Regions from separate parts of the Homo sapiens genome. Here region 2 is linked to region 1. Evidence: fine-mapped expression QTL. A gene starts in region 1. The other region holds a variant in brackets. All regions are shown on one strand. Distances are from middle to middle. Region 1 holds the start of B3GALNT2 (beta-1,3-N-acetylgalactosaminyltransferase 2). Region 2 has its middle 14 kb from the start of TBCE.

Region 1 (8,707 bases):
CAAATGGATTAAAACATTAAATAAAACAAACAAGAATATTGACCAGATCTCACGATCAGAATCATCCTAAAATATGGAAAAAAATTAAATATTGATCATTTGAATTTATAAAAATTTAAAGTGTTTTTGTGTCCTAAAAGTTATAAAATTAGAAGGCAAGAAAACTGAGGAAAAATAAAGGGCTTATACAAATGGATAAAAGGAAGATACATGACTAATTAACAAAAGAAATAGAAACAGCTAACGAACATAAGAATATTCAATCTCATTGATGAAAAGTTTTGTCCTTTGAATTAATAAAGAACTTTTTTAAAATATGAGGGTGAGATAAGAGAAACATATTGAAGGCAGACATACACATTGAAACAATAGCAGTATGAATAAAGCGGCTTAAAAATAATATCAGAAAAGGAAATTATCTGAAATGTGGAAAAAGTTTTGTGCACAGAAGTGCCAGTATTACTTATTATAGTGGAATAATGGAAACAACCTGTATGTCCAATAATACGGGACCAGATAAGAAATTATAGTGTGGACAAATGATTAAGTTATATTTTCTGAGACTACTAATTAAATATGGGAAGGCTTATAGGTTAGGTGAAAATAGTTGGATATAAATTCTAACTTACAGTATGAATGGCAAATTTTTTTAATGAAAAAACTTTTAAAAAATGTATGAATTGTATGTAGTATGATTTCTTATATTCTTCTGTTTTCCAAGATCCTTTTCATAATCATGTATTACATTGGTAATCAGAAAAAAAAATTCTTCTTTAGAGCCTTCACAATAAAGTCCAAATTCCTTAGCAAAGTTTATGATTACAACCTGGCCTCTGCCTTCTGTTCACCTTCTCATCATTGCCGTGTTCCTAACTTGCACTAAGGTCATACCAATTGCTTACATTTCCCTAATTGCCGTGTCATCACTAGCTCAGGTTTATTTATTTTATTTTTTATTTTTTTGCCTACAGTGCTCTTGAATGTCCTTCCTACTTTCTGGCCCTGTTAACTGGCCACTTTGACTTCAAGCCCCGGCCCTGTATTTTCAAGAGATAGCCTCCTCTGGGGACCCTTGAGTAGAGTTAAATATAGTTGGCCCTCCATATCCCTGGGTACTGCATCTATGAATTCAACCAACCTCAAATTCAGGAAAAAAGCAAACTTGAATTTGCGCATGCCATTGAATCCACGTGAATGAAGTGATGCGTAGACATCATATTAGGTGTTATAAGTAATTTAGAGATGATTTCGCGTATATGAGAGGATGTGTGTATGTTATATGCAAATATTATACCATTTTATATAAGGGACTTGAGCATCCATGAATTTTGGTATCCATAGAAGGTCCAGAACCAATCCCCCATGAGTAGAGACAGCTGTACCCCCTGCTTTGTGCTGCTCTAACATCCTGTGCATTCCTTTCTCAGAGCACTTATCACATTGAATTGCCATCATGGTTACCAACCACCCTAGTTTGTCTCTCCCTAATTCTAATTCTGTTAACTTGTTCCTACTTACCCTATGAGCCCCTTGAGTGCACAGACTGTTTATATCACTACTGAGTTTTTTTATTCTTTCCATTACACATACTGTCACTTTTACCTTTTTTTTTTTTTTTTAGAAACAAGGTCCCACTCTGTCACCCAGACTGAGTCCTGTGGTGTGATCATAGCTCACTCTAACCTTGAACTCTGGGGCTTAAGTGATCATCCTGCCTCAGCCTCCCGAGTAGCTGGAACTATAGGCGTATACCACCATGCCCAGCTAATTGTTAATTTTTTGTAGAGACGAGGTCTTGCTATGTTGCCCAGGCTGGTCTTGAACTCCTGGACTCAAGTGATCCTCCCACCTCAGCCTCCTAAAGTGCTGGGATTACAGGAATTACTGTCTTGCAATCTTCACTCACTTTAGTCATGAGATTATTAGGGGACAGTAGAAAACAGGTAAGTGGAAAGGTCACTGGTCCTATGAACAAGTACTATAGACAGCTCCCACTCTGATGTGATTTGAAGGATGTTACAAAGTTATTCAAAACTATTTTTGTTACAAGCTTGTCAGAGAGCCAGTGAAAAACTTCCCCTCTAGGTTGTTAAGTGAAACAACACCTTGATTATTTAATATATTCGGATGACTTATGTTTATTCTTCCCTTTAGTGCTCATTGTAACTTTGAACAGTTGTTTAAATACTGCTAGTTGATACTGCAATCTGTGTCATTTCAATCCCACACTCACAATTCCCCTACCCGGCCCTAATTGTTATATTTTCCAGAGCAGGAATAACCTTCTAACATGCTGGTTGAGTATATTTCTTTATTATGTCTATAGTCTGCGCCCTACTCCCCATCAACACAGGATAGGGATCTTTATTTTGTTCACTGGTGTATCTAAAGTACCTACAAAAGTGTCTGGTACATAATAGACACTCAATAAGTATTTGTCGAATGACTAGCTCTGCTGAAATGAGGGATTAGTCCTCTTTTTAGGATAACTCATTCTAATTCACAAAATGAAAATTTTACAATATCAACAGAGGCCATTTACTACCTTTCCTGAGGATAAAAATAGTATACTTTTTCTGGCAACCAATTATTACTTTCTTGCCTTTTCTTTTTATTTTTTTTTTGTTTGTTTGTTTGTTTTTGAGACAGAGTCTCGTTCTGTCACCCAGGCTGGAGTGCAATGGCGCGATCTCGGCTCACTGCAACCTCCGCCTCCTGGGTTCAAGCGATCCTCCTGCCTCAGCCTCCTGAGTAGCTGGGACTACAGGTGCCCACCACTACGCCAGACTAATTTTTGTATTTTTAGTAGAGACAGGGTTTCACCATGTTACCCAGGCTAGTCTCGAACTCCTGCCCTCAAGTGATCCGCCCACCTCGGCCTCCCAAAGTGCTGGGATTACACGCATGAGCCACGGCGAGCCAAAGTACTTTTTTCCCTTAAGCCTGTTTGAGTTGGGTCTTCTGTCATCCAAGACTTTTTTTCAATAATACAGTCACCTTCTGTTTCCACACTTGTGGAAACTTAAAAAAAAAAAAAAAAAAACCGCGGCCGAGCGCGGTGGCTCACGCCTGTAATCCAAGCATTTTGGGAGGCCGAGGCGGGCGGATCACCTGAGGTCAGGAGCTGGAGACCAGCCTGGCCAACATGGCGAAACCTCGTCTCTACAAAAAAAATACAAAAATTAGCTGGGCGCAGTGGCGGGCGCCTGTAATCCCAGCCACTCAGGAGGCTGAGGCAGGAGAATCGCTTGAACCCAGGAGGCGGAGGTTGCAGCGAGCCGAGATCGCGCCATTGCACTACAGCTTGGGTGACAGAGTGAGACTCCGTCTCAAAAACAAAAGCAGAAACAAAAACCGCCCCATAGCCCAGCCGCTCGTTCTCATCCTTCTCTCCCATCCTCACCCCAGTGCCTTCACCGCCCCGTCCCCGCTTTCCGGCTGCCTCGGCGCGGGCCTGGTGGGCCAGGAGGGCTCCCACCCGGGGCAAAGCCTCAAGACGCGGGGCCGGCGTTCTCCCTGGAAGGCTCGCTGCGGCCACCCTTCCCCAGGTCCCCGGAGCCCACGTTCTCCCAGCTCGCCCGGCTCCCGTTTCGCTCCCAGCTCCAGTATGAACCCGGAGCACGTGCAGTTCTACCCTGATTGGCTCGTCATCATCGTGTTCCACAGCCTAGTCCCCAGCTCGCTGTCTGTCACCCTGCGTTCCCAGAGCACAGAACCGGGCAAAGAGCCGGGAACCCACGGCACCAGAGCTAATCCCTGATGAGTCACCGCTCCAGGCGCGGACACTCGGGCTTCCTCGCCCCACTCTACGGGCCAAGGAGACGTCAGCAGGATCCCACCTCCCACAGCAGTCGAGCAAGAGAGCACGCGGAACAAAGGAGCTCTGCGTGATTTCACACAAGAGCCACTCGGATTTCCTTCAAATCTGAGGCAAAGCGCATTTCCCTTCGCGGCTCCGGGCAGCCTCCGAGCACCGGGTCTCCGGCACTACCTCCCCTGGGCCGTGGGGTGGCAGCAAACGTCAAGGGGGATGCGCATGCTCTGTGTGGGGCCTCGCCCTTCGCCCCCGCGGCCGCCGAGTGACGGAAGCGCGTGCTTAGGCTCATGGGAAATGTGGTTTCTAAACCGCGGGCGCCCCCTGCCTGGGCCCAGAGCGGGACTTCAGCTCCCGGCCGGCTGGCTGGCGCGTGTGGAAACGCGGGAGGAGAGGGCGGGGCGAGTGGGAGAAAAGGTGGGCGGAGCCGGTGGGAAGGCCAGGCGGAGGGGGCGGGGCTTCGGCCGGCTAAGCCGCGGCCACCCGCGGTCTGAGGGACCGGAGGAGCGGGGCCGGGAGCTGCGAGGAGCCCCCCAGACGTCGCCGAGCGCGAGGGCGGGCGTGCTCGGAGTGGTCGCTCGTCAGCCGCCGCCCCTCAGTCTCCGCACTTGCAGGTCCCCTCCCTCTCCGCCGGGACGCGGGAGAGCCCGGCTCGCGGCGGGGGCGGCCAATGCGAAACTGGCTGGTGCTGCTGTGCCCGTGTGTGCTCGGGGCCGCGCTGCACCTCTGGCTGCGGCTGCGCTCCCCGCCGCCCGCCTGCGCCTCCGGGGCCGGCCCTGCAGGTGAGGTCCTGGGGCCGGGCGGGTTGGCGGCCGCCGGGGGGGTGGGAGGCCCGGCTTGGTGCCGCGGGGCTTCGCCGGGAATTGTTGGAGGCGGGGGAAGGGCCAAACGCGACGGTCCCCAGACGAAACAAACGGCTCTTTTCATCCTTGGAGCGTTAACATCGGGCAAACTTGAGGGAGCTTTTCTCTTTTCGTGTCCCCGCCTCTTCTCACTTCCCCGTTTCCCTTAACGCCCGCAGAGCCGGCGCCCGCAGTTGCAAGTCCTTCGCCTGTCCCCAGGCCTGGTTAGTGATGTCCGACGCCGCCCGTTCGCCCGGGAGCGGAACCTCGTGTGCCCTTCAGCCGCCAGCGCTTTCTGCTTTGGGAGCTCTGGCTCTGAAGTTGTTTTCTTCCCCCCCAAGTTGTTGGTCTTTCTCGGTCAAGACTGGGGTTTTAGTGCCGTGGATAATGTGTGTGCGTGTTTTCAAAGGTGGCTCGGTTTTGCTTTTAAGGAATAACTTTGCTGTAAGAATATACTGTAGTTCGTATTCTTGGATTATGATGTAAGTCGGTTAAACAAATCTAGACATGAAATAGGGCATGGCCGAGAGTTGGAGTTGTTCCTGTGAGTTTGGATCGCATAACCTGCTAATGCAGTTTACATGGAAATATCAAATTCTTTAACGATCGTGTCCATTTGCTCTAAAACTTAATCTCTCGTAGGAATGAAACCTTTGTTCTTGTTTCGCGTCACAGCCTAATAGAATGCTTTACTTACGGTGCCCAGCGGATTGTTTTGTTAGTGGGTTCCACCACCCTGAACACTACTTTAGCTTTCCCTGTATCTCTTGTCTTCTTCTTTAAGGGCTTGCCCTAGAACATGAAAGAAACCTAGAAAGCTCTTTTAAATATTATGTAATACTTAATTTTGTAACTATACTGGGACTTTTTTCCCTTACCATCTCTCCCCAAAACAGCTGTTTTCTAATCCAAAAGTTCTTAAAATTAGAATTGAGTGTTTGCAGTTCAGCACTCTATGCCTTATAAGTAGAAAGTATTCGGCAATCCTCAAAACAGTCTCAGTTATATGAAATTATGTTGAGGTTATTTTGGTAACAATCTCTTTTCCTATTAGATCACTAGCTCTTTGAAAAGGATTTGTGTGACCTGAATAGAATTAAACACTATTTAAGTGATTTAATGAAAGTACAGTGTTGCTATGCACTTAACCAGTTGATGGGGTCAGGGTTTTGCTCAGTGTTTTTTAGGTTTTTGTGAAGTGAACTAAGAAGAGAACGCCATATATAAAAAATGCTTTGTAACAGCTGCTTGTGTGTTACAGGTTTCTCTCTTTTGTTATGAGTGAGCCCTGCTGGAATCTCCTTGTAGAGCGTCATTAAGTCTGTTTATGGCCTTAATGGTTGTTTAGGGTTCAGTAAAACAAACAAAAACTGAAATGTTAGTAGACTTCAAACTGAAATCTTAGTAGACTTGCTAGGCAGTTTTCTAGTTTGAGACAAGTTTTTCCTACTCCCTTACTGCACTTGAAGGATGATGCCTTTATCTGCCATCCAGTAGTTAGACCAGGCTAGATTAAGGAAATGAAGAAGTAGACCATAGAAAGGAACAGGGTAATAACGTAGGTAAGAAGATCAATACTAGTTATGTTAATTAACTTTGGCTTTGAATGAGTACTGTGTATCTGGTCAGATAATAAATGGGATTTTTTTTTAAGTTCCGGGATACGTGTGCAGGACGTGCAAGTTTGTTACATAGGTAAACGTGTGCCATGGTGGTTTGCTGCAGCTGTCAACCATCGATATTTTAATAATCTAAGTTAAACATGACTGGCCCGGCGCGGTGCCTCACGCCTGTAATCCCAACACTTTGGGAGGCCGTGGTGGGTGGATCACCTGAGGTCAGGAGTTCAAGACCAGCCTGGCCAACATGGCGAAACCCCGTCTCTACTAAAAATACAAAAATTAGCCGGGCATAGTGGTGCATGCCTGTAATCCCAGCTACTAAGGAGGCTGAGGCAGGAGAATCACTTGAACCTCGGAGGCGGAGGTTGCAGTGAGACGAGATTGCGCCACTGCACTCCAGCCTGGGTGACAAGAGCGAAAGTCCATCTCAAAATAATTAATTAATTAATTAAACAAGACTGACTCCTACCTTTCCTTTTTTCCTTTTGGTACTTTCAAAGCTAAAAGCAGTGGAAGCATCTTAAATGCTAAAATTTCCCATAATTCCTTTACCATTGTGCTGTCACCATGTTGAAACTAAAATAGTTGGGTGTTTTTACATTTTAACCCTTGTACTTTAAGCCTAACAGGAGAAAAAAAAACCCAAGATTTTGCTAAGTATTCTTTTCTTGAATTAACATTTTTAAATGTATTTTTTTTTCTCTTCTGCTGCTTTGTCTGTCTTCAGTCTCATTAAGTAATGGCAGTTTCTTTGTTTTTTTTGAAAGAGCGATTTACCTTCCCTGAATATTAAAAAAGGTTCTTTGGCTCGCAGTTGATTCAGCAAATATTTGAGAGCCTACTCTGTGCCAGCTCCTATCGTAGGTGTGGAATTACAGCAGTAATCAAGCTAAACTTCCTGCCCTCATGTAGTTTACAATTTAGAAGGGAAGACAGAGCATCAGGAAATAATTATAAATATCACAGCGGTAGTGATAAGTATAGGGAAAAAAGATAAAGCAGTGTTAAGAGATTAAAGAGATGGTTTTAAATAGGTCAGGGAAGTCCATTCCATTCTGAAGAGGTAACAGTTGAGCAGGGACCAGAATGAAGTAAGTGAGTCACCTTAGTACCAGAGTCAGCAACTTTTTTAATGTGATAGGTTCCCTTAAACCAGTCAGGGAAAGCAACTGGTAAAGAGGAAGTGAAATCCAGTACACCTGAGGGTGACAGAGGAAAATGCAGGTGGAGATAACCATCGGACTAAGGAATCTAAACATAGGATATCTTGATTACAAAATGCTCGTTTTGGGTAATGCCTTAAGTAGGAATTATTTAACGGTTAATTTAGAAAAATGATGTGACAAAAGAAGGCTTCGCTTTCTAGGGTATCTGGAAAGAAAGAAACCAAAACAAAGGAGCATATTCACTCAACAAGTACTTGAGTGTTAGATTCTGTGCTGGATGCCTAGTCCCTTCTCCCAAGGTGCTCACAGTATCTAATGGAAACAGATGTAGAGCAAGTAGAAGGTCAGAAAACAAATTGAGCTTGCTTTGTAATTTTGCCTGGGGTGAGTTCTTCCAAAATTATCCCTATATGCTAATTGTGTCTCTGTGCTTCAGTTTCCTTATTTATAAGATGATGATCTCATAGACTTATTGTGAAGATTCAATTAATGAAACACCCGCAACAGTGCCTGTTTCATAGTAAACACTCCATGAGTTTGAGAGAGGAGTGGTAGTCTGGTGGCCGCTGATGCCTGTGCTAGTGTGGTGTTTTGGGAGGTGTCTTTGGTAGTGTGTATGATGATTGTCTTTATCATTAGATCTGTGACAGGCTCACATGTTTTCTTCATTTTCAAGATTTGTATCTATTTGTGACTCTTCCAAGAGCATGCATATCAGAGTGGAATTTTGGTGTGATTTTTAAGACTCTTGGGCTTATTTTGAGCAATCAATTTTGATGTCAACCTTCTTTAGACTTTTTTGATTATTATTTTGAGGCACAGTTTCACTCTGTCGCCCAGGCTGGAGTGCAGTGGCACCATCTTGACTAACTGCAACCTCTGCCTCCGGGTTGAAGCCATTCTCCTGCCTCAGCCTCTGTTACATGTGTGTGCCACCACACCCAGCTAATTTTTGTATTATTAGTAGAGACTGCGTTTTGCCATGTTGGCCAGGCTGGTCTCGAACTCCTGACCTCAAGCGATTCATTCACCTCGGCCTCCCAAAGTGCTAGGATTACAGGCATGAGCCACTGCGCCAGGCCCTCCCTTAGACTTTAATATACCTTTGGATGTCCACTCACAGTGCAGGGTTGAGCAGGTTGCCAGACTCTCAGGATATATTACATATTAAGAAAAGAAATAGTTCTTACTGTAGGGTCTCAGAAGAAAACAATACCCCAAAATAAGGCCTCAGAAGCAGCTGTCTCTGACCTGCTGCTGCTG
Region 2 (8,707 bases), 150 kb after region 1:
TTTCATCTTTTTGTACTGTACATTAGATCTACAGAGTACTCTGCAGGCAGTTAAGTTATAAAATGGTGAGGAAATAGCTCCAATCTCCATATCTCTTTCTTTGGCATGACTGAAGTCAGAGTTGGGGTGGGGTTAGACTGGACTCGCCCCCATCAATTTCAGCATATTTTCATCCAATGTACAGGCAGCTGCCCCTACCTTTTGATACCCTCTTCCTTACCAATGCCAAAATGAAACAAAACAAAACAATACCCACTTGAGACAGACTTTAAGGTGGCCCTGTGACCCCTGCCTCCGGGTATTCAGCCCCGTATAATTCCCTAATCCCCTTTCCTTGAGTGTGGGCAGGGTCTGTGACTTGCTTTTAACCAATAGACAATGATAAAAATAATGGGATGTCATTCCTATGATTACATTTTTATAAGACTGTCTTGTTAGCTGCCTGACACTAGAGCCTGCCTGTCTCTCTGTGTGGGTCTCTGTCTTTCTTCCTGGCTTCGAGGAAGCAATCTACTGTGAATCCTACAGCTGAAAGCAAATGAATTCTACCAAGCCGAGGGAGCCTGAAATTGGATCCTTCCCTGCTAGAGCCTCTGAGGAGAACCCAGACCTGGCTGACACCTGGATTGCAGCCTGTGACTCTGAAGCAGAGAACTCAATTCTGCCTCTCTCTTCCATTTTGAAGGGCAGTCTTGCAGTCTCTGCATTTTAGTCTCTCTTCTTCTTCTTCTTTTTTTCTTTTTGTGAGACAGAGTCTTGCTCTGTCGCACAGGCAAGAGTGCAGTGGCACAATTTTGGCTCACTGCAACCTCGGCTTCCCAGGTTCCAGCGATTCTCCCGCCTCAGCCTCCCTAGTAGCTGGGATTACAGGTGTGCACCGCCACGCCTGGCTACTTCTTGCATTTTTAGTAGAGGTTTTGCCATGTTGGCCAGGCTGGTTTCAAACTCCTGACCTCAAGTGATCTGCCTGCCTAAGCCTCTCAAAGTGCTGGTTTTACAAGCATAAGCCACCATGCCTGGCCAAGAAATTTCCTGAAATTTCTTACTCACTAACATGGATCATAATTAGCCCTTCCCATTCTCAATTATATTTTGCTGTATTAACCTTTTTATTCTTTTACTTTCCTTTTAGTGTTCTCTGAAAAGGGAGAAAAAAATAACACACGCTCAGTCCAGCATCCTGAAGAGAATGTATATTCTTCCTCTACCTCCATCTTGCAAGACTAGCAGAAAATTTGATCTCAGTCAGTTTTGGGTCCTCTTTAATTCTCATAGTTACATCAGCTTGTAGGAGATTTTAGAGGTGGCCAGGGGCATCTCATCTTTGGGTCATAGAAGCTATTGGCAGGTTTATTTATTTAATTATTTATTTTTGAGACAGTCTCGCTCTGTTGCCCGGGCAGGAGTGCAGTGGTACGATCTTGGCTCACTGCAACCTTCACCTCCTGGGTTCAAGCCATTCTTGTGCCTCAGCCTCCTGAATAGCTGGGATTACAGGTGTGTGCCACCACGCTTGGCTAACTTTTTTTTTTTTTTTTTGAGATGGAGTCTCGCTCCGTAGCCCAGGCTGGGGTGCAGTGGCTCGATCTTGGCTCACTGTAACCTCCACCTCCTGGGTTCAAGTAATTCCCCTGCCTCAGCCTCCCAAATAGCTGGGACTACAGGCATGCACCACCACACCTGACTAATTTTTGTATTTTTAGTAGAGGTGGGGTTTCACCATGTTGGCCAGGCTGGTCTCAAACTCCTGACCTCAAGTGGTTCACCCACCTCAGCCTCTCAAAGTGCTAGAATTACAGGCATGAGCTACTGTGCCCAGCCCCTGGCTAACTTTTGTATTTTTAGTAGAGACAGGGTTTTACCATGTCACCATGTTGGCCAGGCTAGTCTTGAACTCTTTGTTTGTCTGTTTTTTTCTTTTATTTATTTATTTATTTATCATTATTATTATTTTTTGGTCTCAAACTCCTGACCTCAGGTGATCTACCCGCCTCGGCCTCCCAAAATGCTGGGATTACAAGTGTGAGCCAGCAGATCCAACCTTTTTTTTTTTTTTTTTTTTTTCTGGAGCCAGTGTCTTGCCCTGTTGCCCAGGCTGGAATGCAGTGTTGTAATTTTGGCTCACTGCAACGTCAACCTCCTGGGCTCAAGCAATCTTTCCACCTCAGCCTCCCGAGTAGCTGGGACTATAGGCACTTGCCATCACGCTTGGCTAATTTTTAAATTTTTTTTGTAGAGACAAGGTCTCACTATATTGCCCAGGGTGGTCTCCATCTCCTGACCTCAAGCAATCTTCCCGCTTTGGCCTTCAAGTAGCTGGGACCACAGGTGTGCATCATTATGCCTGGCTTTTATTTATTTATTTAGAGACAAGGTCTCACTATGTTGCCCGGTCTGGTCTTGAACTCCTGGGCTCAAGCTATCCTTCCCTCTTTGGCATCCCAAAGTGCTGGAATTACCAGCATGGGAGCCATCTTGCCTTGGCAAAGCTGTTTCAAAAAAAAAAAGAAAACCTGGGCGCAGGGTCTCACGCCTGTATTCCCAGCACTTTCGGAGGCTGAGGCCGGTGGATCACCTGAGGTCAGGAGTTCGAGACCAGCCTGATAACATGGAGAAACCCTGTCTCTACTAAAAATACAAAAAATTAGCCGGGCATGGTGGCACATGCCTGTAATCCCAGCTACTCAGGAGTCTGAGGCAGGAGAATTGCTTGAACCCGGGAGGCGGTGGTTGTGGTGAGCTGAGATCGTGCCATTGCAATCCAGCCTGGGCAACAAGAGCGAAACTCCATCTCAAAAAAGAAAAGAAAAAAATACTCCTATACGTGGCATGCCAGGATCAGTGCTGAGGCCCCTTCTTTTCTTTCTTACACAATATCTCTAGGTAACCTATCCAATCCTGGGCTTAAGTGATCACCAATGATCCACAAATCTAACTTCAGCCTTGCTTGAATCTCCCCTGAATCTAGCCTGTGCATGCAGTGACATTTCCTCCTGGATGCTTGATAGGCAGCTCTAATTTCCCCCTAATACCTACCCTTTCCCTGTCTTCCTAAGTCTGATTTATGATTTATCACCATCTACTCAGTTTCTTATAAAAAATCTAAAGACCATCCTTGACTCCTCTTTCCATTAACTCTACATCCTATCCACCAGTAATTCATATAAACTCCACTTTCTAAATAATCCCCAATTCAACTACTTCATACCATGTTCTCTGCTACCACCATCTCTCACTGGACACTCAAACACCCTCCTAATTGGTTTCCTTACCTCCTCTTCTGACTCTCTGTAGTCCATCATCCACTCAGATGCCAGGATGATCTTTTATAAAGGTAATTCAGATCTAGTTACTCCCCTTCTTTTTTCTTTTCTTTTCTCTCTTCTTTTCTTTCTTTCTTTCTTTTTTTTTTTTTTTTTTTGACAGAGTCTTGCTCTGTCACCCAGGCTGGAGTACAATGGCGCAATCTTAGCTCACTGCAACTTCCGCCTCCTGGGTTCAAGCAATTCTCCTGCCTCAGCCTCCCGAGTAGCTGGGATTACAGGCGCACACCACCACACCTGGATAATTTTTTGTATTTTTAGTAGAGACAGGGTTTCACCATGTTAGCCAGGCTGGTCTCGAACTCCTGACCTCATGATCCGCCTGCCTCAGCCTCCCAAAGTGCTGGAATTACAGGTGTGAGCCACTGCGCCTGGCCTTTACTCCCCTTCTTCTTTTTTTTTTTCTTTTTTGAGATGGAGTTTCACTCTTATTGCCCAGGCTGGAGTGCAATGGCACAATCTTCCCTCACTGCAACCTCTGCCTCCTGGGTTCAAGTGATTCTCCTGCCTCAGCCTCCCAAGTTTCTGGGATTACAGGCATGTGCTACCACGGCCAGCTAATTTTGTATTTTTAGTAGGGATGAGGTTTCACTATGTTGGTCATGCTGGTCTCGAACTCATGACCTCAGGTGTCAAACTCATGACCTCAGGTGGTCCACCCACCTTGGCCTCCCAAAGTGCTGGGATTACAGGCGTGAGCCACGGCACCTGGCCTTACTCATTTTCTTAAAACCATCCATCGGCTTCAAGTTGCAGTTAGTTTTAAAACCTAAAGTCTGGCTGGGCGCAGTGGCTCATGCCTGTAATCCCAGCGCTTCGGGAGGCCGAGGGAGGTGGATCACCTGGGGTCAGGAGTTTGAGACCAGCCTAGCCAATATAGTGAAAACCCGTCTCTACTAAAAATATAAAAAGTAGCCGGGTGTGGTGGCAGGTGCCTGTAATCCCAGCTACTCGGGAGGCTGAGGCAGGAGAATCGCTTGAACCCGGGAGGCAGAGGTCGCAGTGAGCCGAGATCGCGCCACTGCACTCCAGCCTGGGGGACAAGAGCGAGACTTCATCTCAAAAAAAAAAAAAAAAAAAAAAAAAAAAAAAAAAAACCCAACCTAAAGTCCTTTCTATGATTTACAAATTCCTACACAATCTAATACCTATGTTGCTTTGTACATATTGGCACCATTCTTTCCCACCTTATGACCTTTGTTGGCTATTCCTTTGGTTTCAAATGTTCTTTACTAGGATTGTGGTATAGCTAATTTCTTATCATTCAGAGCTCAGCTTAAATGCTACTCCCTCAGAGGTCTTCCCCGGATACCCAATGTAAGTAGCCACTCTTGAAATTATCTGCTTAGCATTTATTGTTGGTTTTCTCATTTACTGGTGCCTTTATTTTTTAAATTTCAATATTTGAATAGATGACATGTTCACATGCTTCCAAAAAATGAAAAGTAATAAATAGGTATACAGTGAGAAGTCTCTCTTGCTCCTCCCACCTCCTAGTCCTCTGTCTCCCAGGTCCTACCCCTAGATATTTTGTGCAAATATTTTTCTTTTTTTTTTGAGACGGAATCTTACTCTGTCTCCCAGGCTGGAGTGCAGTGGCACATTCTCAGCTCACTGCAACCTCTGCCTCCTGGGTTCAAGCAATTCTCCTCCCTCAGCCTCCTGAGTAGCTGGGATTACAGGTGTTAGCCATCACGCCTGGCTAATTTTTGTATTTTTAGTAGAGACATGGTTTCACCATATTGGTCAGGCTGGTCTCGAACTCCTGACCTCGTGATCTGCCCGCCTTGGCCTCCCAAATTGCTGGGATTACAGGCGTAAGCCACCATGCCCGGCTTTTTCCTTCCTTCCTTCCTTCCTTCTTTCTTTCTTTCTTTTGTTTTTTTTGTTTGTTTGTTTTGTTTTTTTTGAGACAGTGTCTTGGTCTGTTTCTCAGGCTGGAGTGCAGTGGTGCAATCTTGGCTCACTGCAACCTCTGCCTCCCGGGTTCAAGCAATTCTGCTGCCTCAGCCTCCCAAGTAGCTGGGACTACAGGCGCGCGCCACCA[T/C]GCCCGGCTATTTTTTTGTATTTTTAGTAGAGATGGGGTTTCACCACGTTGGCCAGGCTGGTCTCAAACTCCTGACCTGGTGATTTGCCCACCTTGGCCTCCCAAAGTGCTGGGATTACAGGCGTGAGCCACCGCTTCTGGCCTTATTTTTTTTTTTCACAAATAGTAACTTACTATATAATCTCTTATAGAATCTTTTGCTTTCTTTTTGTCTTCATGTAGCTGGGAGATCTGGCTAACTTATTATTTATTTATTTATTTATTTATTTGAGACAGAGTTTTGCTCTTGTCGCCCAGGCTGGAGTGCAGTGGCATGATCTCAGCTCACTGCAACCTCCCCCTCCCAGGTTCAAGTGATTCTCCTGCCCTAGCCTCCCGAGTAGCTGGGATTATAGGCATGCGCCACCATATCTGGCTAATTTTGTATTTTTAGTAGAGACAGGGTTTCTCCATGTTGGTCAGACTGGTCTTGAACTCCCGACCTCAGGTGATCTGCCTGCCTCAGCCTCCCAAAGTGCTGGGATTATAGGCTTGAGCCTCTGCGCCCAGCCTGACTAACTTATTAGTAGGATTTTAGATAGTTCAGAGTACAATAGGAGGGCAGGAGAACCGGGTTCAGGTTCAAGACAAAGAACTGAGACAAAGAACCACAGCAACAGGTACCATTTGGCCAACATATGCTGCCAGATAAGTGAAGCGTTTTCTCCACTCAAGAATCTCCTTGGAGACAGTCCAACTGGCCAAGATTAGGTCATGTATCCAACCTTTGACTGTACAGGTCACTGAGAGGAAAGATATAACAATGTCCTGATACCCCTTGGCTTCTGTATGGGTTACTTTGGCTGTGCCCAACTGGGGAGAGGTAATTCACCAAAAGGAAATTAAACTGTGATTAGGAAGAATTAGGATGGGAGAATAGCCAATAAACAAGGGTATTAATAGCACCTACAGAGTTCATGCCTTTTTATGCATTAAGTATACCTTTTATATATTAAGTATATATTTAGTAAAACAAAAAAAACTAGGTCAACAGTAGAGGTCCAAGAGTATTGTTTTTCTTTTAAAGGACATGGTACATTATTTGAATTGGAAAAATCCTGCCATGAATCCATGTTAAAGAGATGTTTTCCAGCTGCCTTACTATGAAGTCAGCGTCTCACCAGCAGAGTGCAATTGGTCTGTAAGGCATAACAAAAAGACCTTGTATTAAGTCAGTCATAGCCTTTGAAAGGCCATTAGTTAACCAAAGGCCATATTTAAGTTTTGCTTTGTAAGGTCTCTACGAAATACTTAGCTAAGGCCATTCTCTTACTCGTTTTCTATCTGGGTGAAGGGGATTGGTTTGTTTCTTTTAGTTACATTGTTATTTATTATAGACATTTTGATTTGGAGAGGTCTTCAGCAAGAAATTACAACTTTAAGTTAGAGATACAGCAAATTTAATGAGTGGCTAGGGAAACATGTCAGACATATTATGAATACAGGCATGAATGTGAGAACTTGTAGGATATCTTTTTTTTTTTTTTTTTTTTGAGACAGAGTCTCGCTCCGTTGCCCAGGCTGGAGTGCAGTGGCGCCATCTTGGCTCACTGCAACCTCCACCTCCTGGGTTCAAGGGATTCTCCTGCCTCAGTCTCCTGAGTAGCTGGGACTACAGGCATGTGCCACCACACTCGGCTAATTATTGCATATTTAGTAGAGATGGGGTTTTGCCATGTTGGCCATGGTGGTCTTGAACTCCTGACTTCAAGGGATTCACCTGACAGACACATGCAGGAGCAACTGGCTAATTTTTTTATGTCTATTTTTTGTGGAGATGAGGTTTCTTCATTTTGCCTAGGTTGGTCTTGAATTCCTGGCCTCCAGCGATCTTTCTGCCTCGGCCTCCCAAAATGCTGGGATTACAGGCTTGAGCCACTGCACCTGGCTGGATATCTTTAGTTAAGAATGAATAGATAGGGTTAGGTGAAGTAAACCCTATTAAGGAATGATGGGAGATAAGACGGGAAGCAGATTATAGAGAGCTTTGACAGTGAAGCTAAGGTGTTTGTCCTACAAAGGATTTTTGAACAGAGGTATTCAACATAAAAAGCAGTAATATTAATCTGGCAGTTGTGTGCAAGATGGGCTGAAAGAACAGATCCAGTAAGTCAGGAAACATTAATTGTCCATATATGCTATGACATTCCAAGCCAGCTGGGAATTACTGGTGTGATCTTTGGTTTGTTGCAGCAGTCACTAGCTAAATAATATATTCCTATTGGAGCCATGATGTGACACAGGAAACTGCATCAAATTCTTCCAACTTCCTCATTAAATTGATACTCATAGGTGACTTTCAGTCTCAATAAATTGAGAATTTCTCCCAATATTAATGACATTCTCACGGTGCTGGATCCTCTCTTGCCTTCCTCTGAACTATCAGAATTTATACTCAGATTTTTTCTTAATCGTTATAATACTGTCTTAAATTGTATATATTTTATCTTTAGTGCTAACTCATTTATACAATGCTACAATTTTATTTTAATTTATTTTAATTTATTTTAATTATTTTAATTTATTTAATTTATTTTAATTTACTTTTTTTTTTTTTTTTTTGAAGCGGAGTCTTGCTTTGTCGCCCACGCTGGAGTGCAGTGGCGCCATCTTGGCTCACTGCACGCTTTGCCTCCCGAGTTCACGCCATTCTCCTGCCTCAGCCTCCCAAGTAGCTGGGACTACAAGCGCCCACCACCACGCCCAGCTAATTTTTTGTATTTTTAGTAGAGACGGGGTTTCACCGTGTTAGACAGGATGGTCCCGATCTCCTGACCTCATGATCCGCCCGCCTCGGCCTCCCAAAGTGCTGGGGTTACAAGCGTGAGCCACCGCACCCGGCCTAATTTTTACTATTTTTTTTGAGACAGAGTTTCGCTCTTGTTGCCCAGGCTGGAGTGCAATGGCAAGATCTCAGCTTACCCCAACCTCTGCCTCCCGGGTTTGAGCGATTCTCCTGCCTCAGCCTCCGAGTAGCTGGGATTACAGGGCAGGCACCACCACGCCCGGCTAATTTTGTATTTTTAGTAGAGGTGGGGTTTCTCCATGTTAGTCAGGCTGGTCTCGAATTCCTGACCTCAGGTGATCCACCTGCCTCGGCCTCCCAAAGTGCTGGGATTACAGGTGTGAGACACTGCGTCTGGCCATTTGTTTGCTTTTTTTTTTTTTTTTTTGAGACGGAGTCTCGCTCTGTCACCCAGCCTGGAGTGCAGTGGCATGATCTTGGCTCACTGCAACCTCCGCCTCCCAGGTTCAAGCGATTCTTGTGTCTCAGCCTCCCAAGTAGCTGGGATTACAG

The links.
Region 2: its variant is fine-mapped to the expression of B3GALNT2 in fibroblasts (GTEx, PIP above 0.99).

Annotation. Positions count from the first base shown.
Region 1 is chr1:235,500,030-235,508,736 of GRCh38, reverse strand. It overlaps B3GALNT2 (beta-1,3-N-acetylgalactosaminyltransferase 2), which reads left to right and starts at 4,285. Exons shown (of 12, transcript NM_152490.5): 1 at 4,285-4,596. The coding sequence starts at 4,485. RefSeq lists enhancers at 3,687-3,806, 3,507-4,183 and a silencer at 4,117-4,756.
Region 2 is chr1:235,349,494-235,358,200 of GRCh38, reverse strand. No RefSeq gene overlaps it. Among named protein-coding and RNA genes, the nearest start is that of TBCE, 14 kb to the left of the region's middle. The variant T/C (reference allele first, on the strand shown) is at 5,371.